Linked DNA regions of Homo sapiens: all the other regions are linked to region 1. The links come from fine-mapping of genetic effects on plasma protein levels. A gene starts in region 1. Each other region holds a variant in brackets. All regions are shown on one strand. Distances are from middle to middle.

Region 1 (10,483 bases):
GAGGCCCTTGCCTGACCCGAGTCTCACTCTCTCAGGAGCAGAAGCATGGCCCTCGGAGTCAGGAGGCTCCATGCTGGACCACCATAAGACTGATGGACTGTGAAATCTGTCCATCTGTAAAATGAGTACTCATCTTGCTGACAGGTTTGTGGAAGTGAATGAATGAGAAAACCCATGGAGAAGACCTTTTAAAGCATAAAGTTCAATATATGCACTATTACATGAGGAGGTCACAAGCACTTAAAGGCAATGCCAAGGTTGGGTGGTGGTAGGGCTCCTTCCCCACCCCCAGGCCAGATCTTGTGCCCCAAGTCTGAGCCAGCTGCACTCACCATCCTCACACAGGTTCAGCTTGGACAGGCTCCTGCCATCAAAGGAATCCTCACAGATGGAGCTGGTGTCACAGTCGCTGACGGTGTGTAGGTACATAGCTTTGTTCTCCATCACACCCTGCAACAGCTGCAGAGAAGGCAAGAGGGGAGGAGAGGGAGGACGAAGGCCGGGAGAGAGACAGAGAATCAACTGTAGGTGGAAACAGAAGCAAATGGATAGAACAAGGTGCCCACCCCTGACCCTAAGCCTGAACACCGGGACCCTCTGCTCATCACCAGGACCCAGGTGCCATCCTCCAGGTCCTTGGGGCCGTGATGCCCCCACTCCCAGCTTCCTCAGGGCTTCAGAAGACCAAGGCCCTTGGGCCTTTCTGATGGTGGGATGTGTCCATTCCTTTCAACAACTCTCAGTGGGGCTGGAATCCTGAGCTGGGGTCACTGTGGGTTACACTGGGTGGGGCCAGGAGGAGGGAACCCTGCTGACTCAAAAGGTAACCTGAGAGCAGGCTCTGAGCCCTCAGAAGCCCGGGGCATGCCAGAGAGACTTGAGCTTCTGTTCTGTGTTGGAAATGAAGGAAGGAAACTAGATATGAAGGGGCATTCAGAGGGGGTACAGAGTCCACTTGCAAACAAAGCTGAGCAGACCAGGACTGCTCCCAAATCCAACGGGGCTGGCATGTTGGAAGGAGCTTGGCTCAGTAGGACCACAGCAGGGATTCATCTACTGTGGTGGGGCCCGAGGAGCAGGGAGCCTCTGAAGGGACACCCAGGCACTAAGCATCTGGACAGCTTTAGGCCAGGGAGGGCTTCTGTCTGCATGGCCCCCAGAGGCTGACTCATTGGGTCTCTGGGTCTACGCCATGATGGTCCAGGAGCATATACATTGACTTAGGAGAATCCTATGCTCTTTGAAAGGAAACAGCCTGTTGACGCAACAATGTGTACAACACGATCCCATTTTGTAAGACATGCACGCGTAAGGTGCGTGTGGATGTAAGACGCTATGATGGCTCCGGGTGAGAAATGTATTACAGGACTCTGGCTGGAAGGGATTGTGGGGATTTAATATTCCTTTTTGCTTTCAGATTTTCTGGGTTTTCTATGATGCATTTACATTCCTTATGTAATGAGAAGAATCTGTTTTTTAAGCCAAATTACAAAGTATATACATCAATTTCTTGATATTGTTTTTGTCACATAAATGCTCAGTGACTTTACAAATTATTCTCTACTTTCATCAAGGTTCCAGCCATGAGTTTATCTTGACCTTTGCTTCTGATTCTCTTTAACTATCTGGACATTTAACCAAAGAACAGCATCCTTTAGAAGATAAAAGCCCCATGAGGATGGGTCCCAGGCCCAGTATGGAGCAAACTCAACCCTTCAACCCAGAGGAGGCTGGGAGGAGAGGATGCAGGGCTGGCAGGTGGCAGTGGGGGGACAATGCCTGTTGATTGAGAGATCAGTCAATCAGTTTCTCTTCAGAGGGAGGGTGGGCAAGGAGGCGTGGCAACTTTCATAAATAGACATAATCAGGGAAGGCGGCTGGCGGGGTTGCTCTGCAGCAGAGCAAAACAAGAATTCCGTATTTTCTTTCTTCTTTTTTTTTTTCTGTTTCTTTCTTTCTTTTTTTTTTTTTTTTTTTTTTTTGAGACAGGGTCTCACTCTGTTGCCCAGGCTGGATGGCAGTGGTGCAGTCTTGGCTCACTGCAACCTCCGCCTCCCGGGCTCAAGTGATCCTCCCAACTCATCCTCCTGAGTAGCTGGGATTACAGGCACAAGCCACCATGTCCAGCTAATTTTTTGCAGAGATGGGGTTTCACCATGTTGGCCAGGCTGGTCTGGAACTCCTGGAGTCAAGCGCTCCACTGGCCTCAGCCTCCCAAAGTGCTGAGATTACAGGTGTGAGCCACTGCACCCAGCTGAAGCCCCTATTTTCATGACTTGAGCTTGGCCTCCACAGACCTCTGACATTTGGGCTGAGAAGAGACCAGAACTGACCAGTCACTGTATACATGTCCTTCTAATGACCCAGGAGGGCTGGACGCCTCTGCTGTTAGCCCTTCTGTACATCCCCCATAACGGGCACACACACGCATGTGCACACACACAGCCTTGGGGCTCCCAGTATCTGCGGGCCTCTCCTCCAGCCTATGGGAGGGATGGAACAGGGGGTGGTCCTCGGCTCTGCCAGGATCTCTCCTCCCTGCCCCAGACACCACCCACTCTGGCTTCCCTGTGCTGCAGTGGTGTCCAGTTCACTGGGCTCCCAATTCCGGCCCTCCACCCAATGCCTCCACCCAGGCAGGGCCTCTAGGTGGGGCCGCGGGCAGCTCCAGCACTGCTAAGTTGCAAGGGACCCTCCCTCATTTCATGAGCACTGTGTGCGGCAGCCCTCCCTCTGGCTTCACTCCTTGCGGGGCTGTGAAGCAGGAGGCCAATGTCTCTTTTGCCTGCAATAACCCTCCCTCTGCCAAAGGCAATAGCCTCTGCTTCCCAGAGGCCACACAGAGCCAGACAGGGCGCTGCCCCTGGGGAGTGGAGGTGTGAGGCCCCACTGCCATTTCCACCTTCCTCCTCTTCTGGTCAGCTCCTGGGACGGGGCTGGAATGCACGGCTTGTTAGCCAGAATGTGTGTGAAGGGCAGCTGTCTCCTTCCTCCTCCCCACCCCTCAGCTGGTCCAGCAGGAGCCCAGGGGATCTGCTGGGGAGAGGGACTGGGGCCGAGCGGGGCCAGATGTGAGTGCACAGGGCTTGGAAAAGCTCAGACAACTCTACTCATGTTTGTTACTTGGAATTGAAACCTACGCATGTTCTGTCTGCCCAAGGTTTCTTGGGGGCTGTTTTTCTTTCTTGGGGGAGGAAGCAGGCATTGGGACCCTCAGATCATGGATCTTACTGTCTTTGGACCAAGTCTGTGCTCTAGAAGATGAAACTGATGGCAAGTGCTCCTCCCAGGAGCACTGTGTTGGGGGTAGGCTGATGGCATTTGCATTCCGTCCCTCCCATTTTAAACATAAGCCATCCCAGACCAAAGAGGCAAAGGAAGGAATGGATATCAGAGCGGGAAGAGGCCCCGGGCACAGTTTTCCTACACAGGGCACTGGCTCAGCTGCAGGGTTGCTTTGTTTGGGAATTGCATGTCAGCCCCTTTGGTGACCACTTTCTGGGCCCCAGATCAGGCAGAGAAGAGAATCCCACCTCAGACTGCCAGCCAGTGTACTCCAGCAGGTGGGGATCCTGGGACTGAGGCAGGGCTCTGAGAGCTTGAAGCACATGGGCGAGATGTGGAAGCCACAGTGACCTGTGGATGAAGCCCAAGGAGACTGGACCTCAACTTGCAACTCAAAGAGGGAGGTCTTGCTCTAACAGGGAGGTGTCACCCTCTCCACTAACCTCTTGGCAATCATGATTTACTTCCAGACAATTTCACCCAAGGCACTTAGAAGGGCAGGTTCAGAGCCAGGGATCTGCTTCTAGATTCTGCATTTTAGAGCTGGAAAAGCCCTCAGCCATCTGTGCCCTGCAGCCCTGTGCCCTGGGGCCATCTGCGCCCTGCAGGCCTGGCTCTCTGCAGGAATGCAGGGAACACAGAAGCCAAGGGCTCCCATCCTAGCTCCTCTGCGTATTGGTTTCTTGGGGGAACTTGGCTCAATTACCTGACCTCATTCAGCCTCAGGTACATGACCTCTAAGATGGGAAGGTGGGTAGCTGCTGGTCACCCAGGATCACTGTGAGCCTCCCGTGAGATAATGCATGTGGCATGACTTTATGAACAAGGTCACTCAGGGGAGCTGGTGGCAGTCTGATGAGAAAAAGCATCCCCCAGCATCTTCTGACTCTGCCTGGCAGCCAGGTAAGGGGGTGTCCAGGTTCCCAAGGCCTCCCTCCTACCTAGCCAGTCTCAGAAACAAAGCTGTTTGAAGTTCCCTTTGTAAAAGGCAATCGCGAATGCACTCTAGGGCTGATATCAGGACCCTGGCTCTTCAATCCTTCTCTGGAGATCAGAAGGACTCCATTAATTCCTCCTCTGAGTGGGTAGCACGAGCCTCATTTGCTGCTACCAAGTCAGTTTCTCTGGGTACCCGCATCTAACTCTGCAGGGTTTATGGCTTTTCTTTGGATTACCTCACTTTAAACTCATCAAAACCAAGGAAAAAAATCACATGAGTGTGGCCCTTCTCCAAAGAGAGAATCACTAAGGAGGTTTTAAATGTTTTCCTCCTCTAACTGTACTTAGTTAAGCTAAATCATAACCCAAAGCTGGACAGAGACAGATATTTTAGAAATAACCTCTCCCCACATATATCCCACCACTGGCACATGCACACGCACAGACATGCACACACACACACATGCACACACACACACATGCACACACACACATGCACACACACACATGCACACACACGAAGCCATGGAGAGGAGCTGTCACCTGAGCCATCTGCACCCTGAGTAGGCTCTTGAGCTGTGACATGAGTCAGGTGGAGTAGCCACCAAGGCAATAGCTTCCCTCTGGCACCCCAAATGCAGGCTCACATTCTCTCCAGCCCAGGCAGTTGGATGAGGGCCCGGCAGATATCTGCGGGCCCAGCAGGCGGGGACCTTCCCACCTGGAGAAGGCACCTCCAGGCTCTAGGTCTGAAGTTTCCCAAACTCTGTACTCCTCTCCATCCAGTTCACTCCAGTCTCCTCCAGCTGTCTTTGAGACAGCATGCCCAGGAGATAGGACAAAATTAGTACCAAGACTCACCTGAGTGCCCCTGGCTGAGGCTGTAGAGCCTTGTCCCCTCAGATCTCAGCATTTGCCATGGTGGCCAGAGAGCTGGCTGCCACCACGCTGAGAGCCAGGCCGCCCCTCGGACCGCGTCCCCACAGCCAGCCAAATCCAGATGGAGTCATAGAAAGGGGCTGCAGGGGCGCCCAGGGACGAGTCTCAGAGCAGGACCACAGGGGCCACTTCTGCAGGAGGACCAGGTCAAGATGCAACCTGTGGCAGAGTGGGGGTCTGGGCCTGGGGGACCCAGAATGGGGGGTGTGCGCCTGGGACTCCCTGTCCTTGGTGCCTGGTCCTGGGTAGCGATCAGGAGATGTTCTGAGGAGGCACCGGCAGCTCCTCTAGGTACTGCCTGAGATGCGAACTGCAGCTGCTCTCGCCGCCAGTCCGTATAAAATAAAGTTCTTGGAGCAGTTGCGGAGGCTTCTGCAATGGGGTCTGGAATACGGCCCCCCTCCTGCGGCCAATCGTGGCATTACAGCCCCGTGTGGGAACGCCCGCTGGGCCCAGAGCAGCGCGGTCGGCCTTGGCCTTGGGACTCCAACACCCCAGTCTAAAGGTCCTGCTCAAAATACTTTTTGGAAGACTTCTGGGGGAGTGGCAGCTAGACCTGGCTTATGAGCCACGCAAGAAAACCAGTCTTGTAAATTTATTTATAGCACAGAATTGGCATGGCTCAATTCATTCACCAAGCTTGGCACAGAGTTACTTCATGTATTTTCCTGGAGTCACATTCATCCTCAGTGGACACGGATTGGCCACACTGGGGGTAGTCAGGAAAATGCCCCAGGGGGTTCCACGGAACTCAGCAGCAGAATCAGCGTTTCTGGCTCATTAACGCTGCACAGGGGCTGGGGGGTGCAGGATGAAGACTAGCTGGCTGTCCATAGCAATTCAGTATGGGAGGGGGACCCAGGCACGAATAATCCTAAACCTGAGCATGATTGCTTACGTTTGAAAAAGGACATCTAGGCCGGGTGCAGTGACTCACACCTGTGGTCCCAGCACTTTGGGAGGCTGAGGTGGGAGGATTGCTTGAGCCCACCCACAAGTTCAAGACCAGCCTGGGCAACATAGTGAGACCCCATCTCTAAAAAAAAAAAAAATCTCTTTAAAGGCAATCTAACCATATGTGAAGGGAGCTGCTAAATTCAGATTGAGGTGGTAGTATCAGGGGCATCAGAGAAATCACCATAATTGTCCAAGCCAGGGTGGCAGAGTTAGGCTATGCAGATGGCTTCCAGAGGACAGCACCCAGAGGTAACATTCATGAATGCATTCCTGTTTGTTGGTGAAAAGTTCAGCCTCAAGACTCCAGGGTCAGGCTTCGTACATGAAAAGTGTTTGCCAAGACTCAGCTGTGTCACTGCAGCTGCCCGCCCACAGCTGAGTCAGAAACGCCGTCCTCATTCTCAGTGACTGCCCTGCCTGACTGCCTAGGAAGCAGCTCCAACATCAAACTCCATTTTACAGAAAGAACAAATGATAATTGTATCATTATGGTAATAATCCCAGGGAGCGGAGGAGGAGAAGGAAAAGAAGACAACACTTTATAGCATATACCATGTGTTTCTTATATATTAGCTCATTGAACCTATTCAACAACCCCCTGAGGCAGGTGCTGCTATTATGCTCATTTACAGAGACAGAGAGGAAGTGACTTGTCCAGGGTCTTGTAGCCAGTAAGTGGCAGAGCTAGTATTCAACCCTAGGCAATGTGATCCTAGGGTCTATGCTCTTAACCCCTCCCCTGTACCATTGCCTCTCAAGGGGAAACAAATGTTTTTGTCCCCCATCAATTCACCAACATTCCTAGGAATGTAATCTTAAAAACAGCCAGAAATGTGCTCAAAATATGATGTCCAACCAGCCTGGGCAACATGACAAAACCCTGTCTCTACAAAAAAAAAAAAATACAAACAATAGCTGGGCGTGGTGATGCACACCTGTAGTCCCAGGTGCTTGGGAGGCTGAGATGGGAGGATCAACTGAGCCCAGGAGTTTGAGGCTGCAGTGAGCTGTGATCGCACCACTGCACCCCAGACTGGGTAACAGAACAAGATCCTGTCTTAAAAAAAAAAGTGATGTCCAAAGACCTTCCCTAAAGAGATGTGTATGTTAGCAAGAAATGTGGTAGTTAGTGTCCCCCTAAATTCAAGCATTGGAAATGTAATCTTTATTGCAACAGTGTTGGGAGGTGGGGCCTTTGTGGGGGTATTTGAGTCATGAATGTATTTGGGATGCCGTAGAAAGGGCTTGCAGGAGTGGGCTGGCTTGATCCTCTGCCTTTCTGCCATGTGAGGACTCCACGCTCATCCTCGCTTGTCCTCCCACCTCCCGCCCTGTTCGAAGCACTGAGTCCTATTGCGTGATAGGCACATACCACACACAATGTGTATATCGGTCTCCTGCTGAAGGGGGTTTGGGATGTTTCCAATCTTTGTCTATTATGAATAAAGCTGCCGGAACAGGCAAAGGGAGATTTGACAGTGAAGTATAGGAATGACCTGGAGGGCTGGTTTTCTCATGGGTGAGAGTCCTCCCGGCAGCTCTTAGCTCAGATACCTCCTTGCCACTAAAATCAGAATTGTCCCCAAAATGATTTGCTTCCATTCAATCACGGATGGCATTTGTAGTAGGCATTTCCCCCCCAGAAGCTGAATGAAAATGTGATTGCCTTGATAGAGGAGGGTTCAATAGACTTCTGAAGTAGTTTCATCTATGAAATCTCAGTATTTGAAATGGAGGGACCAAGCTTTTTCAGTTTGTTTTTTCTAGAGGTAGGATGTCACTTTATCACCCAGGTCGGAGTACAGTGGCACAATCATAGCTCACTGCAGCCTCGACCTCCCAGGCTCAAGTGATCCTCCCACCTCAACCTCCTGAGTAGCTGGGGCTACAAGCACATGCCACCACACCCAGCTAATTTTTTAAAATCCTTTGTAGAGATGAGGTCTCGCTATCTTGCCCAGGCTGGTCTCAAACTTCTGACCTCGAGCAATCCTCCCGCCTCCACCAGCCAAAGTGCTGGGATTACAGGTGTGAGCCACCATGTCCAGACTCCATTTTTGACTCTGATAAATGGTGCTGCTGTGAACATTCTTGTGTGTGTCTTCTGGGGAACATATGAATGCCATTCTCTTGGGCATATACCTGGGCATGGAATCGCCAGGGCATAGGATGGCCCTGTGTTCAGCTTTGGTAGACACTGCCAAAGAGTTTCCTATGGTGGTTGTACTAGTTTATATCCAGCAGGGGATGAAACTACACTTATTCCTTGTCCTTGTCAGTGTCAGTGATGTTTATTCCATTTTCCCTGCTCTGGTGCATTGTAGAGGTGCCATATTGTGGTTTTAATTTGCATTTTCCTGATGACTCATGAAGTTGAGCACCTTTAATTATGTCATTAAGTCTGATTGTTGACTTGAACTCTGGGCCCGTTACACCAGCAGGTCCTGCCCTATGGCTTGGGGTTGGCTGTTCCATCTGCCTGGAGTGGTTCCACCAGATGTTTGCACAACTAACTTCTTTGCCTCATTCCCATCTTTTCTCAAATGTCACTTTGTTCATGCTGCTGAGCCTAATGATTCCTACCCACAGGCCAGGCATGGTGGCTCACGCCTACAATCCCAGCACTTTGGGAGGCCAAAGCGGGAGGATCACTTAAGGTCAGGAGTTTGAGACCAGCCTGGTCAACATGGTGAAAACCTGTCTCTACCGAAAATACAAAAATTAGCTGGGTGCAGTAGCAGGCACCTGTAGTCCCAGCTACTCGGGAGGCCGAGGTGGGAGGATCACTTGAACCAGGCAGGCCGAAGCTGCAGTGAGCCAGGATTGCACCACTGCACTCCAGCCTGGGTGATAAAGCGAGACCTGATCTCAAATAAATAAATAAATAAAATTGCTACACACCCCTTGCCACTCTTAGTCCCCCTCACCCTGCTTGGTTTTGCTTACTGTCTGCTAGAACAGCAGCTCCAGGAAGGCAGCTCACTTGAGTGCTTCAAAATGCCTAGCAGGGTGCCTGGCGCACAGTACACGCTCCAGAAATATTGGTTGTGTGACAATCTGAGGAAACAGCATCAGGCACAGGGAACAGAAGGCTCAGAGGCCTCAGTATGGAAACACACTGGACATGCCGGAGGGGCAGAGAAAGGCCCAGTGGCCAGAGCACAGAGGATGCAGTGGCCAGAGAGAGGAGGTCAGGGGAGAGGGAAGCCTGGGTCTCACCCTGAGCACAGAGTGGAGCTGAGGCCACGCCCTTCTTTTTTGTCTCTATCTTCTCCCAGGGAACACATCGATCCTGTACTGTTCATATTTTTGCTTCTTTTTTTTTTTTTTTTTACATATTTCTTCATTATAGTTTGCTACTTCTTGTTTAAACTTTTTAAAAAAATTAATTGTGGTAAAACACACATTGCATAAAATTTGCCATCCTAACCCTTATTTATTTGTTTGTTTGTTTGTTTATTTATTTATTTATTTATTTATTTATTGAGACAGAGTCTTACTCTGTGGCCCAGGCTGGAGTGCAGTGGCGTGATCTCAGCTCACTGCAACCTCCACCTCCTGGGCTTAAGCAATTCTCCTGCCTCAGCCTCCCAAGTAGCTGGGATTACAGGGGTGAACCACCACGCCCAGCTAATTTTTGCATTTTTAGTAGAGACGGGGGGTTCGCCATGTTGGCCAGGCTGGTCTCAAACTCAAATGATCCACCCGCCTCAGCTTCCTAAAGTGCTGCGATCACAGGTATGAGTCACCATGCTCAGCCCTAACTGTTTTTAAATACATAGTTCAGTAGTGTTAAGTACATTTGAATTGATGTTCAACCAGTCTCCAGAACTCTTTTCATCTTTCAATACTGAAACTCCACTCATTCAACAACTCCCCGTCCCCTGTCCTCCAGCCCCTGGCACCACTCATTCTCCTTTCTGTCTCTTTGAATTTGACTACCCCAGGGACCTTGCTATTTCTTTATCTGTGGCCTACTCTGCAAAAATACACTCGAAAATGTTTACCTTTAGTATTTTCTTTTTGGTTAGTTTTTAATCTGGTTCACATGAAATATAAGTGCTTTTCAAAAGCAATTTTTGTCCATCGTTTACAAACCAGTGTTTATCTTTTATTATTGTTCAGCTTTGTAAAAATATCTTGGTGAGAAGTATGTAATCAGCTGGGTGCGGTGGCTCACGCCTGTAATCCCAGCACTTTGGGAGGCCGAAGCAGGCAGATCACTTGAGGCCAGGAGTTGGAGACCAGCCATGGTCAAGATGGTGAAACCCTGACTCTACTAAAAATACAAAAATTAGCTGAGCATGGTGGCTCACGCCTGTAATCCCAGCTATTTGGGAGGCTGAGGCAGGAGAATCACTTG
Region 2 (10,483 bases), 140 kb before region 1:
TTGGAAAAAAATCAGTTGACTATATCTGTGTGGTTCTACATCTGGGCTTTCTATTTTGTTCTGTTGATCAATTTGTCTATTATTTCACCAATAGCACACTGTCTTGATTATTGTAGCTTTATAGTAAGTATCGAAGTTAGGTGGTGTTGGCCAGGCATGCTGGCTCACTCCTGTAATCCCAGCATTTTGGGAGGCCAAGGCAGGCAGATCATCTGAAGTCAGGAGTTCGAGACCAGCCTAGCCAACATGGCGAAACCCCGTCTCTACTAAAAATATAAAAATTAGCTGGGTGTGGTGGCACGTGCCTGTAGTTCCAGCCACTCAGGAGACTGAGGCAGGAGAATTGCTTGAACCTGGGAGGTGGTGGTTGCAGTGAGCCGAAATTGCACCACTGCACTCCAGCCTGGGTGACAGAGTGAGACTCTGTCTCAAAAAAAAAAAAAAAAAAAAAAAAGTTAGGTATTGTCAGTCTTCCAATTTTGTCTTTTCAGTCTATTATGTTGACTGTTCTGGTCTTTTGCCTCTCCATGTAAATTTTAGAATAAGTTTGTTGAGATCTACAACATAACTTGCTAAAATTGTGATTGAGATTGTATTGAATTTATAAAGTTGGGAAGAACTGACATCTTGGCAATATTGAGTCTTCCTTTCCATGAACATGGAATATCTCTCCATTTATTTAGTTCTTTATTTCATGTGTGTTGTAGTTTTCCCTATATAGATCTTGTATATATTTTTTAGACTTATACAGAATTTATTTCATTTGGGAGAGTGCTAATGTAAATGATACTGTGTTTTTAACTTCAAATTCCACTTGTTCATTGCTGGTATATAGGAAAGCAATTGATTTTTGTATATTAACCTTGTGTCTTGAAATCTTGCTATAATTCCTTCTTGGTTCCAGGAGTTTGGTTGTTTTTTTTTTTTTTTTGAGACGGAGTTTCACTCTTTTTGCCCAGGCTGGAGTACAGTGGCACTATCTCAGCTCACCGCAACCACCACCTTCTGGGTTCAAGCAATTCTCCTGCCTCAGCCTCCTGAGTAGCTGGGATTACAGGCACCCACCACCATGCCCAGCTAATTTTGTATTTTTAGTAGAGACAGTTTCTCCATGTTGGTCAGGTTGGTCTCGAACTCCCGGCCTCAGGTGATCCGCCCGCCTCGGCCTCCCAAAGTGCTGGGATTACAGGCGTGAGCCACTGCACCTGGCCTTTTTTTTTTTTTTTTTTTTAAGATTTTTACAGATTTTCTACATAGACAACTATGTCATCTGTGACGAAAGATAGTTTTATCCTTGTTATTTTCTTCCTTCTATTTGTTTTGGATTTAATTTGCTTCCCTTCCCTCTGTCACCAGCTTCTTACAGTGGAGATTTGGATAATTGATTTAAACCTCTTTTCTTTTATAATATGAGCATTTAAAGCTATAGATTCCTTTGAAGTATTGCTTTAGTGGCTTTACAAATTTTGGCATATTGCATTTTCATTATATTTTAGTTCAAACTATTTTCTAATTTCTCTTGTGATTTTTTGATGCAGAGTTACTTATAAATATAATTTTAAAATTAATAGGTTTAATTGTCATAATTGTATACATGTATGGGATACAAAGTGATATTTTGATATATGTATTATACAACATGGAATAAATTAATAAACATAGGCAGCACCTCATTTACTTATCATTTTTTGTGGCAAAACATCTGAAGTTTACTCTTTTAGAGGATACAATACATTAATATTGACTACAGTCACCCTGCTGTGCAATAGATCTCAAAATGTATTTCTCTTGTCTAACTGAAACTTTATACCTTTTGGCCAACTACTTCGCTTTCCTTCTCTCCCACCCCCACCCTCTCAGCCTCTCATAACCATCATTCTACTCTCTACTTCTAGGAGTTCAACTTTTTTAGCTTCAACATATAAGTGACATCATGCAGTATTTGTCTTTTTTCACCTGGCTCATTTCACTCAGCATAACATCTTCCACGTTCATCTATCTTGTTGCAAATGACAGGATTTCCTTCTTTTCTATGGCTGAATAGTATTCAATTGTGTATATATTACCACCTTTTCTTTATCCATTCATTCATCAGTGGACCCTTAGGTTGATTCCATATCTTGGCTATTATGAATAATGCTGCAATCAACATCAGAGTGCAGATATCGCTTCATTGACTTTAATTCCTTTGGATACATACTCAGAGTAGGTTTGCTAGAACATAAATATAATTTTTAATTTCCAAATATTTGAGGGCATTTTTTCAGTATCTTAGAATTAGTGATTTATAATTTAATCTCATTTGGCCAGAGATCATACTATTAGGCTTGGAGTGATGCTTTGTTAGGGCAGGCCTGTTTGGTTCTGAGCATTGCCTGTACTCTTGGTCATTGCTATTTTCCTAACTAAAAATATTTGGAAAATGGAGTTCTGGAAGGGTGCATATGTATATTAGGGTGATGGAGGAAAGTAATAACTCCTTCTCTTCCTTAGTGGGAAGTTTCAATAGATAATACCTAAAACTAAAAAATCAGTATATAACCATAGGAGATGAAATAGATAAGGTACTTGATGTATCTGAATGCTTGAATGAAGATTTAGATAATGGTAAAGCATTTTGGGTTGAATTAAGTAAGCGTGCAGAAAACAAAACAAAAAATTGATGACTATTAACTCAATGGTGAGTAAATGTACAAGAAATGAAAAATAATTATATTCACTACATAGTTCACCTGTGAATAGTATTGACATAATAATATAAAGAGTAAATTAAACATTTTTTAAATTAAAAAATTAGAAAAGTTGAAAGAATATACAGTGAACACTTTAGAGATATATATATATATTCCACCTGGATTCATGAATTAAACAATAGATGATAGTACACTTTTTATCATCAAGGTGTACAGAATGTCTGGTTGTCTGCCTTTTTAAATTAGTAGTTATTGATGCTTAAATTTACTAGATCCATTAATTTATTGAAGGCTACAAAATGATATTTTAATTCTGTCAGTTCTTTCTTGATTCATTTCCTTTCCACTACTATTTTGTGACAGAGTTATGCCATTTATATGCTTTTGTTTTTGTTGTTGAGACAGGGTCTCACTGTCGCTCAGGCTAGAGTGCAGTGGCATGATCCTGGCTCACTGCAGCCTCCATCTCCTGGGTTCAAGCAATTCTCGTGCCTCAGTCTCTGGAGTAGCTGGAACTACAGGCACGTGCCACCACACTTAGCTAATGCTTCAATTTTTTTCCATGTATTTACTAGTTTTCAAAATAATGAATTAGTTCCAAATCATCCTCCAAAGGAGATCACTTAGGTTTTAAAAATGGCATCATTTTGAATACATGGATTTCAATAGATTTGATGGATTTTAATTCATTGCAACTCTCATCCTCACTGACATTCGCTGTAATGTGTTTGGCCATGGGAACCTTTCCAAGCTGGCCCCTGATCTTGTTCACATGGCCTTCATAGTTTTTCATAGCTTCCTTTTTAACTCATATGACAACATGTTCCAGGCTCATCATGTGCATTTTTCACTGCAGGCTTGGTATCAGCCATTTCTTCAAGAAGCCCTCATGTCTTTCTTTTGAAAGCAGAAAATGGTATTTCAAGAACATAATCTGAGTGCTAGGGATAATCATTGCTTGAGGTGTGGTCACTGTTTCTAGGCCTGTTTTTTAAATTGATTTTTAACCAATTGCCTAGTTTTAACCACACGTTCACCTCCACTTCCAAAAGTAGCTCCTGTCACTGAGTTCTAAGCTTTTTGGGAATCCTGTGGCCTTCCTGCTTCCTGCTTAACACTCAGCCTTCTCTTGTCTGCTAAGTCGTTCACTGCTGTGCGTCAGCTTTCCAGTTTCAAAAAGGCTGTTGGGCCGGGCACGGTGGCTCACGCCTGTGATCCCAGCCCTTTGGGAGGCTGAGGTGAGAAACTTGGTTGAGCCCAGAATTTTGAAACCAGCCTGGGTAACATAACAAGACTCCTTCTCTACAAAAAATTTAAAAATTAGCCAGGACTGGTGGTACATGCCTGTAGTCCCAGCTACTCAGGAGGCTGAGGTGGGAGGATTGCTTGAGTCTGGGAGGTTGAGTTGGCAGTGAGCTATGATTGCACCACTGCACTCCAGCCTGGGCAACAGAACTAGACCTGGTCTCTAAAAAGAAAAAAAAAAAAAGTTTACTTTTGTCTCTGCTTCTGATAGCCCATTG[T/C]TGTAGGTTTATGTCCATAAGAGACAAAATTGTTTTATTCTTGTTTTACTAAGGTCTTAGGAGGGAGTGAAAGAAGGTATTTATGTCCAATCTACAATTTTTAGCTTTGAAAGTCTCTCATTTATCTTTGTATTCCTGGTATACTTATAGGTTTTGTTAGTCCATAGTAAATATTTTTGAAATGTAAAGAGAGAGTGTATCAAGAGGGTTACCCTCTCTTGACCTTGCTTGTGACAAGATGGGTCAGACCAGGAGATGCTGGGATAAGCTGTTCCAAGACATGTTTCTTTTCACTTCTGACTTCGCCTTGCATATTCCCTGGCAATCACTTTGTCACTTAGGTCTGAGATCCCAAGGCTATGCTCCCATGAAGAGCTGTAGATTCAGCAGGTGTCTGGCTGATCTGGGCTTTCTGACTCCGTTCTTGGTTATTAACCTTGCTATGGACTGACTAGTTGCCAAAACGACACCCAGAGCTCTGGTTCTCAGGTGAAGTTAACAGTCAGGTGTCAGCTGCAACAGAAACCCTCACAGCTGATCCAGCCCTGAACGTGCTGACTGCTGAGGCCAGCGGGCCTTCTCAAACGGAAGAAAACCTTAGGAAATGACCATTCCCAACCGTCTGTGAATATCAGACATGGAATAGCAGCAACCCAGATCTCCTTTTGGCTTGATGGAATCTGACTTCCTACTCCCCACTCTAAAGTCCAGAGGAGAAGACTTTGCCAGAATTATAATTTATCAAAACATGTTCTATTCTAAAGGGAAAGGGGACATTGACAGTATTTGTATGGAAAACGTTTTGCTTTGCATCACTGATTCTTCATATTCCAAATAATTTGTGGGGTGAGTGAGTTACTTGATTTTTCTTGTAAAGGGAGAAAAATAAAAACTCTTATAGTTCTCTAGAGGAGCAGCATAAATTAAAACTGGAAAACGAGGCAGCAGTGATACATTCCATTTACCTTCAGCAAACACTGCACAGGGGACGCCTTGGCTGCAGAATCTGCAATGCCAGAAATCAGCACCGACTCTTTTCAGATGTGACATATTTTCCACAGAACTTGATTCTCATCTTTGCTATGACTGCCTGTGGCCACTCAGTTACTAGAAGCCTACCATGCCAGTTCTTTGCTAAGTGGCTCTGGCAAGGTCTTTGCTAGCATTTAATCACAGTGAGAAAACTCCAGAGACTTTATTAGCTGTATAAAGAATTATAGAGATATTAGCTTAAGTTGGATGAAGTCCAGAGCAGCTGTACTGCTCTTCAAGTACCAGAGAATTTCTAAGAGATATATTATGCTAACAGAAAAGTATCCTGGGATTTTAATCCTAAATTATGTTAATACTGAACATAGGTATTCTTTATTTTACAAAGTAGCTGTATTCCTGAAAACTGTTGTGTTAATCTGGCTTCTAATACCCAATCCTACTTCCCCATTCATATATTTTGAAAGTGTTTAATCTTCATTTATGGCTAAATGTCAATGTATATATATACTTTTTTGTTTTTTAATTTTTTCTTTTCAGAGATAAGTTCTCACTCTGTCACCCAGTCTGAAGTGCAGTGGTACGACTGTAGCTCACTGCAGCCTTCAACTCCTGGGCTCAAGCAATCCTCCCACCTCAGCTTCTCAAGTAGCTAGGACCACAAGTGTGCACCACCATGCCCAGCTTTCCCAGCTAATTTTTAAAAATTTTTTTGTAGAGACGGGGTCTCACTATGTTGCCCAGGCTGGTCTCAAACTCCCAGGCTCAAGTGATCCTCCCAACTTGGCCTCCCAAAGTGGTGGGATTATAGGTGTGAGCCATTGCACCCAACCTCAATGTATGTACCTTTTTTTTTTTTTTTTTTGAGACAGGGTCTCACTCTCTTACCTAGGCTGGAGTGCAGTGGCATGATTATGGCTCACTGCAGCCTTGACCAGCCAGGCTCAAACAATTCTTCCTCCTCTGCCTCCAAAGTAGCTGGGGCTACAGGCACACACCACCATGCCTGGCTAATTTATATATGCATATTTTTTGTAGAGACAGGGTTTTGCCATGTTGCCCGGACTGATCTTAAACTCCTGGGCTCAAGTTATCTGCCCTTGTCAGCCTCCCAAAGTGTTGAGATTACAGGCATGAGCCACCACACCCGGCTGACTCAATGTACGTACTTTTACTTTCAATTCTACTTCTCCAAGTTTCTTTGACAAGTACTTAAATATAAAAAGAGTAAATATACTAGTATAGCTATCTATTTAAAGGAATGTTTATTAAATATTTTGGTAATGAGTATTTGATTATTTTGATTTTTATATATTAATAGGAATTAAGTCTCTGCTTCATCCAAAATGTGCAGTCTGGCTCACTTAACCTGGCTTAACTTTCCAAAATATATTTGCTTGTAATTAATACCTGCTGCCACTAGGTGGTGGTGGTGCTTTGGCCACTGAATGAGATTAGTATGCTCTTGCAAAATAATACATAGGGCCTGGTGTGGCGGCCCATGCATGTAATCCCAGCACTTTGGGAGGCCGAGGTGGGTGGATCACCTGAGGTCAGGAGTTCAAGACCAGCCTGGCCAACATGGTGAAACCCCCTCTCTATTAAAAATTCAAAATTAGCCGGGTGTGGTGGGTGCGTGCCTGTAATCCCAGCTACTGGGGAGGCTGAGGCAGGAGAATTGCTTGAACCCGGGGAGGTGGAGGTAGCAGTGAGCCAAGATAGTGCCACTGAACTCCAGCCTGGGCGACAAGAGCGAAAACTCCGTCTAAAAAAAACAAAAACAAAATCATATCTAAAAATACTTCACTGTTGAAATAAGTACAATCAGTATATTTTCCATTAATCATTCAATATGATCATTTCAAATTAATTTAATTCTCAACTTATTTCAATGCTTAATTAGCTTATATCAGTGTTTCTTAAAGTAAATTTTGTAGAGCACTAGTTCCCCACACAGTACTTTCCTATGCCGCATAAGAAATTACCACAATCTTAGCAGCTTAAAAACAACAAACATTTACATTTCCACTTCCAGAATGGCCACACGAGGTGCTCCACAGTCTCCAGCAAAGCCAGCATAACTGGTGAAAAATATATTTCAAACCTCAGTATTTAAAGTCTCTGGAAATTGTCCTAAGAGTATATAGCAAATAAATAAACATTTATTCAAGAAAATGGAGTAAAATTTGGTAAGAACATTGAGAGTCCATGGCATTTGAACCGTAACTCCTTCCTTACCCAGGGTTGACTGTGGCAGAAACTCCAGCCTAGGCAGGTAAAGCCAAGAACGCAAGGCTCCCTCTCCCGTCGGCTCCCACTTTCGGGTATGGTATGTTCCTGGGAGGGGCAGGCCACAGAATTTTTCATCAGCTGTGTGTTGTAAATTCCAGGGCTAAATTCCAGGTGAGTCCAGCCAAGAGGCCTGATGTTCTCTTCTTCCACCCAGCCCCCACTGGCAGGTGAAGGTTCTTCACCAGGCGCATCACACTGAGAACAGAGAGGCTGTGCTCATCCTTATTTGCAGGGTGGAGGCTCCACGCTCAGAGGGATGGATGATGCCATCCTTTACTATCACTAAGTGTGGAGTGGGGGATAACAAAACGGGTTAATGTGGGAGGTGAAAAGGTTTTACATTTCTGCTAAAAGGAGGTCAGTTCTAAATTACTTTTATTGCACACTGCTATAAGATCCATGAAGCTGACTTCTACAGTAATGATTGCTTACACATGTTGAAAGCTTGGTGCAACAGATAGGGTGCTAGACTAGAGGTTGGATATCTTTTACCTTAATTTTGTCATTTACCAGCTGTGTGACTTGAGACAATTTACCTAACCTCCGGTGGGTCATTTTTTTCATTACATAACGGGGATAATAATGACTGCCTTAATGATCTCACCGAACAAATATGCAAACCAAATCAGGTAACTTGTAAAGCTGTCTTAAATTGATTACCCTATATGAATGTAAGGGTTTATTTTTATTGTTGATGATGACAATGTAGATGGTTAATCACTAATTAAAAATAATTGGCTTAAAGAAGCATAGTTATCCAATTAACTTATCCTTGATTGATTAAACAGGTTTAAACCCAGTTCTTGTGGTTGTTCATTACCATGGACATAGAACGATCAGTTATATACTAGGATGGTTGTTCTTCACCTTCAGCGTGTTTCAGAATCACCTAAAGAGCTTGTTGAAATGCAGGCTTCAGGAACCCCTCCCCAGAGTTTCTGATTCAGAAAGTCTGGATCGGGGTCTGAAATTGTGCATTTCTAACAAGTTCCCAGGAGACACTGATGCTGTTAGTCTAGAGACCACAATTTGAGAACTACTGTCTTAGGTGGACAGGACATTTTCAGCCTTGTTACAAATTGCTATAAGGGCCCTGAAAAAAGATTCCAGGTAATATGAAAACATTTTTTAAAAAAGGCACCTGCCCTAGCCTGGGAACTGCTAGAAATCTGCAAGAAGGAAGGAACATTGGAGCTGAAATCTGGCAGAAAAGTGGTAGTTAATCAACATAGCAGAGTGGCAGAAGAGAAGAACTGCTAGACCAAAAGAAGAATGGGTCAAAGGCTCTGGGGCTGGACGGAGTGTGATGCTCAATGCTTCTGAGGAAATGGAAGGCCAGCATGCTAGGGTGAAGGTGAACACAGTGGAGGCACCGGTGAGGCCAGAGTGAGAAGGAGGAGACCAGCCCTAAAGACTCTGAATTTCATCCTGAGAGCAATGGGAATTTGCTGAAAAGTTTTCAGCAAAAGAATGTAATGACCTAATTTGTGTTTTTAAAATCCTTTCTGGCTGCTACATGGAACATTGGCTAAAAGTAGGCAAGGGTAGAAATGATGAGACTAGCTAGGAAGGTACAGAAGTCCAAGAGAGCTGGTATCAAGGGCTGGCTGAGAAAGTCTAAGTGAGGTGGGGAGCTGCGAATGGGAAGAGTGAGGCACTCCCTGGAGTAGCGAGAGAGGGAGCTGCCACCTCCCAGCTGGGTGAGTTGCAACGTTCACTGAGCTGGAGGGTGGAGGACCACAGTGTGATGGTAGGGATGGGTGGAGGGACATCCTGATTTCACTGGGGACTTACTGTATTTTAATTTTTTAACTCACAGTAGAATTCAGGATTTTTTTTTTTTTTTTTTTTTGAGGCAGACTCTTGCTCTGTCGCCCAGGCTGGAGTACAGTGGCTGATCTTGGCTCACTGCAACCTCTGCCTCCCAGGTGCAAAGAATTCTTTTGCCTCAGTGACCCAAACAGCTAGGAGTACAGGTAATGAGCCTGCCCAGCTAATTTTTGTATTTTTAGTAGAGACGAGGTTTTTCCATGCTGGCCAGGCTGGTCTCGAACTCCTGACCTCAGGTGATCCACCCGCCTCGGCCTCCCAAAGTGCTGGGATTACAGGCATCAGCCACTGCGCCCGGCCAGAACTCAGAATTTTTTTTTTTTAATTTGGAGAATATACATTTCTAAGAATTTTGAACAATTGTGCATACATAATCACTACTGCTATTAGGACACATGATAATTTCATCTTCCAAAAACTTCCCCAGGTCGTCCTTGGTAGTCAAATCTTCTCCTTACTCCTAAAACCTGGCAATACTGGTATCATCTTGGCCTCTATACTCTTACCTTTTCAAGAACGTCCCAATGTGGAATCATACAGTGGGTAATCCTTGGGGCCTGGCTTCTCTCACTTAGCACAGCATATTTGAGATTCATCTGTGCTCTTGCATGTGTCAATAGTTCATTTCTTTTCATTCCTAAGCAGTAGTGTGTCATTTGGGTGTACCCCTTTGTTTTGGCATTTATGAATAACACTGCTATAAAGTTTCATGGACAGGCTTTCATGTGAACAGAGATTTTCATTCCTCTAGGGTAAATGCCTAGAGTTGGGGTGCTGGCTCATATAAGCTTATGTTTAACTATATTTCATATTTTATCTTATTTATTATTTATTTACTTTATATATTTTTTAATCTTTTAATTTTTTTTTGAGACAGAGTCTCACTCTGTCACCCAGGCTGGAGTATAGTGGCTCGATCTCAGTTCACTGCAACCTCTGCCTCCTGGGTTAAAGCAATTCTCATGTCTCAGCCTCCTGAGTAGCTGGGAATACAGGCGCACGTCACCACGCTTGGCTAATTTTGGTATTTTCAGTAGATATGGGCTTTGCCATGTTGATCAGGCTGGTCTCGAACTCCCGGCCTCAAGTAATTCACCTGCCTCGGCCTCCCAAAGTGCTGGAATTACAGGTGTGAGCTACCACGCCAGGACTATC
Region 3 (10,483 bases), 45 kb before region 1:
AGCTGCCTTCCGATGCCCCGGCCTCTGGGAGAGTTTATCAACTTTTGTATACATCAGTGGTGAACTCTGAGCACCTGCGTCCACTTCCTTCCCCACTTTAACTCTCGGGCTGCACGGTACTGCAGAAGTGTTACGCTGACTTGGCCCTTTCTTGTGCTGCTTGAACATCCTGGAGTTGGGCTGCCTTGAGTGGGTTGGAGGGCTGGAAAAAAAAATGCCCTTTGCTGCTATCTCAAAGCATCTTCATGCTTCTTAATGCTGAAGCCTGCTTTGCCTCTCTCATTCTTGGAAGTAACTATATCCACTTTACCAAGAACATGAAAGCCATTTAGCAAGAACACCATCTCCTCTGCATCATTTAGCATGAATGCCACCTCCTCTGCACCTCACCATAGTTCTGCAAACACACTGCTTCTTCTCAGATGAGAGTAAGAAGCATCCCTCTTCCTGCTCAAGGTGACCTGCACCCTCTGTGTTCCATTCTGTTCCCTGCTGGCTCCTTGATAGGAAGCCAGTGGTGGGAGAGGTGCAGTCCTGTGATGCCTTGAAGGAGCCATCCAACATAGAAGCACCAAGAGGTTGGAAGGGTGGGGTGTGTTAGGAGGTTGCATCCTAACTAATGAGGGTACCCCACAAGATAGCCCTCTAAATATTTGAAGATGGATCCCCTTTCCTTAAGGTTTCCTTTGCCAACATGGCAAAACCCTGTCTCTACTAAAAATACAAAAAGCTTGTGTTTTTACAAACCAGGCATGGTGGTGTGAGCCTGTAGTCCTAGCTATTCCGGAGGCTGAGGTGGGAGGATCACCTGAGCCTGGGAAATGGAGGCTGCAGTGAGCACTGCACTCCAGCCTGGGTGACGGGAGTGAGACTCTGACTAAAAATAATTATAAAGTCCCTTTATTGCCAAAGTCATTCTTTCCTGAATGTGTTTTAGCTTAAATGCATCCAGCGGTATGCTGATAAATGTTTAACAACTGGTTCTCCAAGGGGTTGGGGAGAAGCCTAAGCTGTGGTGCTTGCCAATGTTTGAGGTGTAAATATCCCACTATGACCGACTTCAAGCTACCAACATGACATCATTGACTACGGAGTTAGGAAAAGACGCACGTAATCAGAGCTGACCAGCACACCACTGTCTGCAGCCACCTTACATTGCAGCGGTCAGAGAGGAAAACAGCAATGAAGAGGGTTAGAAAAGCCACATTTGATGACCACCTTTGTAATAACTGACTCGGGCAAGAATTGTAAGTGGATGCTAAAATCATGGAGTGAAGGATTGCTGGCAATCAGTGTATTTACACAGCCTCAGAGTGTCTCCCCACAGATCACTTCTTAATCAGAGGGAATAAAAGATAGCTTTACAGTAGATTATTCTGACCAAATTTACCTTAACCAAATTTACCATTACCAGTACAGGAACAAATTGACACAATCCACCTCCTCAAATGACTTAGAAAGTGTTACTGCCAAGAAGGTTTAACCTACGTCAATCATGGGAAAACAATTAAACAAACCCAAGTTAAAGGACAGGATAGCAAGCAACTGGCCTGCATTCTTTAAAATGTCCATGTCATGAAATACAGTGAAAGGCAAGGAACCCATCTAGAAAAGACTATGGAGCCATGAAAACCACATGTATATTCTGGATTGGATCCTGCATCAGGAGTTTTAAAAATGGTTATAAAGGACATTCTTGGAGCAACGGAAGAAAATTAAATATGGATATACTGTATTTATAATCAGCATTAGATTTCTTGAATTCAGTAATTGTATAGTGGTGATATAAGACAATGTCCTTGTTCTTGTAAATACACACTAACATATTTAGGGGTGAAGTTTGCAACTCACTGTCAAATGGTTCCACAAAAATTAAAAATGGTAATAACAAACGTGGGGCGAGAAGAGAGAGCAGGTACACGCAAATGGCATAAAATGTTAACAATATTAAAATGAAGGGTATATAGCACTCTTTATAGCTTCCAACTTCTCTGTAGGTTTAACATTTTTTAAAAAATAAAAAATTAAGACCAGGCATGGTGGCTCATGCCTGTAATCCTAGCACTTTGGGAGGCCAAGGTGGATGGATCACCTGAGGTCAGGAGTTTGAGACCAGCCTGGCCAACATGGTGAAACTCCATTTTGTAAAAATAGAAAAAAAAAAAAAAAGTAGCTGGGCATGGTGGCAGTTGCCTGCAATCCCAGATACTTGGGAGGCTGAGGTGGGAGAATCATTTGAACCTGGGAGGCAGAGGTTGCAGTGAGCCGAGATCACGCCACTGCACTCGTCTGGGCGACAGAGCGAGAGCCTGTCTCAAAAAAAAATAATTGAGGTCAGGCGCTGTGACTCATGCTTGTAATCCCAGTACTCTGGGAAACTGAGGCAGGTGGATGACTTGAACCCAGGAGCTCAAGACCAGCCTGGGCAACATGGCAAAACCATCTCTACTAAAAATACAAAAAATTAGCCAGGTGTGGTGGTATAGGCCTGTAGTGCCAGCTACTCAGGAGGCTGAGGTAGGAGGATCATCTGAGTTCAGGAAGAAGAGGCTGCAGTGAGCTGTGATTGTGCCCACTGCACTCCAGCCTGGGTGATGGGAATGAGACTGTAAAAAAATAATAATAAATTGAAAAAAAAAAAAGGAAACACTGAGGAGTTGTCTAACCTGCATGGAGCCAAATAATACTGGTGCCTCCCTTATTCTCTATGAACGTAACTTTGATCACGATAGCTTTTGGTGGCAGGCATGTCACACACTGACTCATAGACTGCATCCTGCCAAACTCAAACCCTCAACCTTGCTTTAAAAACTGATGTCAAGCCGTGGCTTCCCCATTTGTGGGGCACTACTTCATGTGTGTCCATATTAATTGACCAGGTCTAAGCTATCTCTCTGGGTTTCAGCCTTATTTTGGGTTCTGATTCCGCATTCCTTTAAATTGAGTGCTGATCTCTGTGAACCACAAAGACAACAAACATGTCATCCGGGATTTAACTACATAAAGATTTATGAAGCATACAGGTTGTGCAAAGCAGCAGGTTGGGTACAAAGAAATCAACAACAAGTAAATAAGATGTGAGTGTCAATCATAGCCTTCTGGAAGATAAGAACCAGGTCTTATACTTCCTTGGTCCCCCTATAGCACCCCATGGTAGTGAGTATGTATTAGACACTTTATAAATGCCTGATTTGACCTCACATAGTAACCAGGCAAAAGGCTTAAACAGCCAGTCTCCTTAAGAGATGACACAATGAATAATCAAATGTATGGAAAGCTTGATGAGATTATTAGCTATCAAAGAAATGCAAATTTTAAAAAAGGAAATCTCTAAAAGTAATGGAACAGTGCTACATCATGCTGGCAAGACCGTGGTGAACGCTAGTGTGTTTAAACATTGCTGATGACTGTGCAAATATTTTTGGAAGGCAATTTGGCAAAAAGTATCAATAGCCATAAAAATGTTCACATCCTTTGCAAAATAGTCTCTCTCCTGGGAATTTAAGAAGTAACCCAAAAGAAGGGAAATGCTACAGCAGTGAGAAATTTATCACTCTCTTATTTGTAGCAGTGAAAACCTAGAGAAGTCGTGGATGAGCAATTAGGAACAATTAAATCATGGTACATTAACCAGATGAACTTTAATGAAGCTCTAAAAATGACAACCATGAAGTCTGCCATGTAACAATGTGGGACATGCATACGCTATCACAGGAAGCAAGCACATACACACAAAGGATTAAAAGAAAACCAGGATTCGTGAAAACAACTGACTTTAGAGGAGTGGAATTATGAGTGCAGCCTTCTTCTCTGAAGGGATTGGCTCCAGGATCCCCCACAGAAAATCCTCAGATGCTCAGGTCCCTTCATTGGACCTCCTGTATTTGCTGGTTTCACATTCTCAAATTCAATCAACCACGGATAGAGAGAGGACTCAAAGGAAACCAGCCCTGTTAGCACCTTGATCTTGGACTTGCAGCCTTCCTGAGAGAAAGTAACTACATCTATTGTTTAAGCCATGCAGGCTGCGGTATTTTGTTATGGCAGCCTCAGCAAACTAATACAGACTGTAAGAGACAACCCAGCCAGCCAGGGCTAATTTGGCTCTATCTAAGGGTAGGACCAGGAGCCCCAGGCACAGTGGATTATGGGTCATTGTAGGCACCACCAAGTGTGCCCAGGGCCAGAGAGAATCTGACGAGGCCTCCTTTGCCCTCTTCATCCCAGTGAGTGGAATGCCCCCCTTTCTGATTTAGGAAGGGGTGGGCCTTGGGCATCTGCATTTCAAATAACAACCCACCCCTCCCTGATTTCTGTTTTAGCAAACTCGTTGAACTGAGATCCTGCAGAATGACTGAATTCATGATCCCCTTAGCTTTTGTTTTTTTTCACTGTTCTCCTTCAGTTTCTTCTGTCTCTCCTAGCGAACAGAGATCCCAGGTGGTCAGAATATCCTGTTGGGCTTTTTTTTTTTTTTTGAGAGGGAGTCTCGCTCTGTCACCCAGGCTGGAGTGCAGTAGTGTGGCTTTGGATCACTGCAACCTCTGCCTCCCAAGTTCAAGTGATTCTCCTACTTCAGTCTCCCGAGGAGCTGGGACTATAGGTATGCACTACCACGTCCGGCTACCTTTTGTATTTTTAGTAGAGACAGGGTTTCGCCGTGTTGGCCAGGCTGGTCTCGAACTCCTGACCTCAGGTGATCCACCTGCCTTGGGCTCCCAAAGTGCTGGGATTACAGGCATGAGCGACTGCACCCAGCCTCTGTTGGACTTCCAAGGGCAAATTGGCTTAAAAATCCAAAGGGCAAGAGATTCTGCTTCTGGGTACAAGCCCAAAAGAATTGAAAGCAAGGGCTTGAACAGATACCTGAACACCCATGTTCATAGCAGTATTATTCACAGCAGCCGAAAGATGGGAGCAACCCAAATGTCCACTGACAGATGGATGGATAAGCAGAATGTGGTCTAGCCAAGCAATGAAATAGTATTTAGCCTTACAAAGGAAGGAAATTCTGACCCCTGCTTCAACCTGGATGAACTTTGAGAACATTACGCTAAGTGAAATAAACCAGTCATAAAGGCTCACGCCTGTAATCCCAGCACTTTGGGAGGCCCAAGTCCGAGACCAGCCTGAACATGGCGAAACCGTGTCTCTACTAAAAAAAAAAAAAAAAAAAAGTCAGGCATGGTGGCACATGCCTGTGATCCCAGCTACTTGGGAGACTGAGGCAGGAGAATTGCTTGAACCCGGGAGGCAGAGGTTGCAGTGAGCTGAGATCACGCCACTGTACTCCAGTCTAGGTGACAGAGTGAAAAGATAAAATAAAAACATGATAGACAAACACTGTCTGATTCCACTGATATGAGGTCCCCAAGAGAAGACAAATCCATAGAGACAGAAAGTAGAATGGGGGTTGCCAGGGGCTGGGGGAATGAGGAGTTCAGGTCTAGTGGATGCAGTTTCAGCTTGGAGATATGAAGAGTTCTGCTAGTGGGTGGTGGCGATGGTTGCACGGCAATGTAAACATGCTTAATGTCACTGACCCTTACACTTAAAAATGGTTAAAATGATAAATATTATGTTCTGTGTATTTCACCAGAATAAAGAAAATTCTAAAAGGTAACTGAGGAGGGGAGCTGGGTGGGGTCGGGGGTGGAGGACAGATTTGGCCTCGGGCTGGGTTGCAGGCCTCCTCCCCAGGGTGAGGGCGGTGA[C/T]TTAGGGGAGGGTCTGGCTGCTCCAGGCAAGCAATTACTCAGACTCAGCCTTGGCCACACCCAAGGCCACAAGATATATGGGCCCTCTGGGAGGGAGGCAGGGAGGCCCCAGCTCAGCTTTCACAACTGAAGTCTCAGGACCTGGCTGGGAGCCACGAGCTGGAGCCTTCCTTCCCCTTCCCCTATCTTCTCTTCCATCAAATACAAAGGCGGCAGGGCCTGGGGCTGGGCCGTTCCACCGGCAGGTCAGGACCGCCAGGCCAGCCTTTCTGTCCACTGGGCCGAAGGGTGTGGCCCGGTTCCATGTGTTTGGGATTTGAGCAGCTAGGGGCCTGGAGAGCTCTTCAAACTGGCCAGTCCCACGGGGCTTGGTGGGTAACATTCCCCAGTCCCTCTCCAAGGAAGAAAAACAAACAGCTGAGCGCAGGAAGCCTAGCTGTGGGACTCGCTCCAAGACTGAAAGGGGAGGAAAAAACGATTCCAGCCCCAAACGCCTAGTTAAATTGAAAGCAATGGACTACAGACGGGAATGGGCACTTTTCCATAAGCCCCAGCCTTATCAAGGAAATTTAAAAATCCATCCTTGAGAGTTCATGCGTTTTGCTTTGTAATTTGCAATGTGGTGTTATGGCCGTTTGTGTATATCGATGTGCATAGTTTATATTGCAAAAGCAGATATTATAAAAACCCACATGGCCAGGCTGAATGAACGAAGCACAAGCGGGTGGAGCCCACAATTGGCTTGGTGCTAGTATTCTTTGTGGGAAGCCACCCTCCTTGTCCCTCACTTCGGGGTGCCTCAGTTTCCCTATCTACTTCTTGCTCAGAGGCTGGTGGTGTGGTGGACAGAACAGTGAGCTTCAGGGGACCTGAGGCCCAGGCCTGTCTTGATCACACATGAGCAGAGCCCACGTGGCTCAGAGCTTGGCTTTCCAGCTAATCTGTATTTCCTCAGTAGAAGCCAGGTGGCAATCACAGGGGAACAGCAGGGATTAGTGAGACGGAGCTCTTGACCAGGAAACCAGAGTCAGCCCAGCTTTGACCTTAACCACCAGTGCCCTTTAAATTTAATCAGCAACTATTTATTTTCTCCTATGAGAACTATCAACCTCGTTGGACCTCAGTCTTCTCATCTGTGAATGGGGATAATAGTGTCTCCCTCAGAGCAGTGGGTGAGGCTCAAGTAACCTATTGGATGGGAAATATGATTATTACTGTAACCGTAAGGGTGGAGTTGGGTGAGGTTGGCAGCTACCATGTGGGAGCATGGGGGTCTTTGGGACACTATGGATTGAGTAGCTCAGGAATCAGGCCACTGTTGCCGCATAACTCAGCCTGGAAGCAGGGCAGGCAGATCGGAGAGCAGCAGCAGTGCCTGACTCACCTCCTGTCCTCCTTCCACCCCAACCGCATCCCATCAAGAGGGCTTTTCCCCGTGGAAACTCACGCCCACGGTACCCGGAGCTGGATGGGAAAAGCCCCTGCCTGGCAGTGTCTCAGGTCTGAGTCCTCCCCTACAGCCTGCCCGGGTGCAGAAGGGGCCAGGGACATGGGTCTGGCTCCTGAAGAGGCCCTGCAGGTTGCAGTGGGGTGGGACCTGAGGGGAGCCACTGCCCATCCACAGAAAGAAGGGCTGTTGCAGAAAGTTCTGGAGCTGGACTAAGCTGGCCTTGCTGATGGTGCTGCTAAGCATGAACAAGCAGGCTGGCCTTGGGCAGGTCCACCAGGGCCTGAGCAGAGACCTAGGGAGGCTCAGTAATGTGGCCAGCCCACCGTGGCTCCTTGTGGTGAGAAAGGGGCTGAGAGCCTGGAAACGCTGGGGGAATGCCACCCACTGGCCACCTGGGAGTGAGTCCTTGCAGCCAGGGCAGGTGCAGAGCCACCAAGGAGGGGAAGGGGTCTAGCACATCCTCCTGCCAACTGCATGCCAGCCCCAGGGGCTGAGGCAGGGACACCCACACGCTCTTTGCCATTAAACCACCTATGTCTGCACTTTGACGCGAGCCAGACCTGGGGGTTGCCAGGAATATGCACGACTACCTGGAACCTGGTCCAGATCCCTGCCTTGTAAGGAGACCCCCACCCCACACACACCCCCAATCCCATCCTCGAGCAGACCCTTTCCACACAGGCCTCATGCCCGTGCTTGGGGGGCATCCCAGCCTGCACGGCCAACTCTAATCCCCACCTAATGCCGGCAAGCAACCCTCCCTTTGTCACCCTCTGGCCAGCACCGTGGTTTCCCTCTCCCAGAACAGCCCAAAGGACCTGGAAGAAAGCTGAGGCTTTGGGGAAGGGAATTCCAGTCCCAGGTCCCCAGAGCATGACCCAGAAGGAGGGACATGTGAGCTCCAGGTGCCATGTTCTCTTAGCCCTCAGGATGCCTCACCTTGTGGGTTGGGAAGCGGCCAGAGGGACAGAGTGGGGCCCTCTAACACATGGGGACTAGGGCAGGTGCCTTGGTCTCAGGAACCTGAGACACTTAGCAATGCCTCGGAATCCAGTGCCAGCACTTTCCTTGAGCGTATATTAACAGACAGCACCTCTGTACCCATTCAACCGATCGGAACGAGCTCTGTGACAAAACTCCTATTTCAGCACTCAGCTTTATGGGAAAAAAAAAAAAAGGTCAGTGTGGACTAAGCCATTTATTCCACAGACCTCACCAATAACTGCTGTTATAGTACCATACACAGGGACTCACCCCTTCTCAAGAGGAATGGTGGGTGCTTAATACATCATCTCATCTAAGGGTCTCCACGTTACTCAGAGGATGGCCTTAGGATCCCCACTTTACAGATAAGAAAACTGGTGCTCAAAGAGGTTTAGAAATTTGCCCAAACTCATGGAATTTTTAAAAAGAGCAGAATGGGTTTGAAATGCAAGTCCATGTAATTCTAAAATTTAGGCTAGTGAATGATACAGAGGGATTCATATATGTGCCCCCAGAAAGGTCACAGTTTAGTGTGGAGTCAGACACAGAAAACCGGTATCAATGCCTGAGCAGGACAAGAGCTGTGCTGAGTGGAGCAGGAGGGCAGTGTGGGAGCCGGAGCTGTGGTCACTCCCAAGGTCCAAAAACTGATCGGCGCCAATGGAGCTCTGAAGGTCCAGCCCAGAAATTCTCAACCCAGAGCCCCCAACAGAACCTTTAAAGAGCCCCAAAGTAGACATGGGTTTTCTTGGTGACCAACGAATGACTGGTGACCATTGATGTGTCAAGTGGTCAGGCCCCCGAGGCTCACAGGGGCAAGGCCCCCTGCCCAAGGTCACACAGCTTGTGGCAGTGCCAGGGTCAGGAGACCCGAGGCTGGACCTCCGGTGCAGAGGCCCGTCCCGTCCTGCACGGTGCCATCAGCGACTGCCCATGGCCACACGGTAAGGCAGAAGGCAAGTGTGCTCCACGCCAGGGAATGTGCCTCCTGTACCCAGAGGAGGAAGGAAAATCCTTCCTCTTCCTCATGCAGGGGAGGTTCCCTGAGACAAGGCTGGAGAAGAGGAGGTCCGGAATCCCTTCTTCCTTTCAACATTTTTCACGGGGAATGACTTCGAGCGAACTCGAACACACCAGAGAATTCCAGTCCCAGGTCCTCAGAGCATGACCCAGAAGGAGGGACATGTGAGCTCCAGGTGACATGCTCTCTTAGCCCTGAGTGCACAGGGTGTTGCTTAGAGCAGGTCACTTTTGCAGGATAGTGTCCCCTGCAAACTCATGTCCACCCAGAACCTATTTGGAAATAAACTCTTGGTAGGTGTAATCAAACTAAGATGAGGTTGTATTGGGTTGGGGACCAATATGATTAGTGTCCTTAGAAGAAGAGGGAGATCTGGACACAGAAACAGACATGTAGGGAAGAAGGTTGGGTGTCGATGGGAGCGCAGATTTTAGCAATGAGCCTACAAGCCAAGAAACAAAGGGGTGGCTGGCACCCCCAGAAGCTGGAAGAGGTAAAGAAGGATCCTTTCCCACAGCCTCTAGAGGGAGTGCAGCCTTTGCTCGTGCCTTTTTTGGACTTCCATCCTCCGAGCTGTGAGAAAATAAATTGTTATTTAAAGCCACCCGGTTTGAGGTACTTTGAGCAGTCCTAGGAGATGGACACAGCTGGGTGGTTGTTTTCTGACCATCTGGCAGTTGGAGATCAAGGGTTGGGGTGGAGATCCCAGTCTTTATGGACCAAGTCCTTGCACAGGGAGTGGTCAGGGGGCTTTCTGCCTTCGTTGCCATCACCCAGGGGACACAGGCTGCAGACCCTGCAGAGCTACTTCCCTTAGCCCTGTACTCTTCACTCCTCACAGCCAGCAAGACCTTCCTGTGGGCCTGAGAGTGACAAGCCATGCAGAGAGGCAGAATAATGAAAAATCCTATCATTCCCTGCAAATTGGTGCAGTCTTTCTATTAAGCCTTAAACATATACCCACTTTGACAGCAATACCCCAAGTAGGGACCTATCCTAAGGAAATTATTGGCCGTATGGACAATGGACTGTGTGCAAGCATTATTTATTGTAGCGAAACACTGTGAGACAGAGTGGATTTTTTTCCCACTCTCTCTTCACCCCTTTTCTAGTCGTAACACATACCCAGTTCCTTTTGGAACCAAGCACAGGCCAAGCCAGGATAACAGAAGGGAGCCTTTTGTCAAAAGTCAGAAAGAGAAAGAGAGGCAGGAACTCTTTTTTAGCACAAGAGTGAACAGGGTATTGCTTAGAGCAGATCACTTTTGCAGGATAAATGTCAGATGCATGTGGATGTCAGACCCTGAAGCAGAG

Alleles and levels. Alleles are on the strand shown, and positions count from the first base shown. The strength of an association depends on the size of the effect and on how common the allele is.
In carriers of allele T in region 2, the plasma level of the protein whose gene starts at base 5,502 in region 1 tends to be lower than with C alone (weak association).
As copies of C replace T in region 3, the plasma level of the protein whose gene starts at base 5,502 in region 1 goes up (strong association).

What was found. A credible set is the group of variants that fine-mapping cannot tell apart. PIP is the chance, under the fine-mapping model, that this variant and not a neighbour inherited with it causes the effect. Protein levels are from antibody-based Olink assays in UK Biobank. Linkage for the fine-mapping came from a reference panel and not from the study's own genotypes, which makes the PIPs less certain.
Region 2: its variant is the best candidate, but not a certain one, in a credible set for the plasma level of the SCARA5 protein (UK Biobank, PIP 0.61).
Region 3: its variant is the best candidate, but not a certain one, in a credible set for the plasma level of the SCARA5 protein (UK Biobank, PIP 0.79).

Annotation. Positions count from the first base shown.
Region 1 is chr8:27,987,172-27,997,654 of GRCh38, forward strand. It overlaps SCARA5 (scavenger receptor class A member 5), which reads right to left and starts at 5,502. Exons shown (of 9, transcript NM_173833.6): 1 at 5,086-5,502; 2 at 333-459. The coding sequence starts at 444.
Region 2 is chr8:27,849,034-27,859,516 of GRCh38, forward strand. No RefSeq gene overlaps it. Among named protein-coding and RNA genes, the nearest start is that of PBK, 16 kb to the left of the region's middle. The variant T/C (reference allele first, on the strand shown) is at 4,217.
Region 3 is chr8:27,942,552-27,953,034 of GRCh38, forward strand. All of the region lies in intron 3 of SCARA5 (scavenger receptor class A member 5), which reads right to left. Among named protein-coding and RNA genes, the nearest start is that of SCARA5, 45 kb to the right of the region's middle. RefSeq lists enhancers at 6,817-7,318, 7,319-7,818. The variant C/T (reference allele first, on the strand shown) is at 5,715.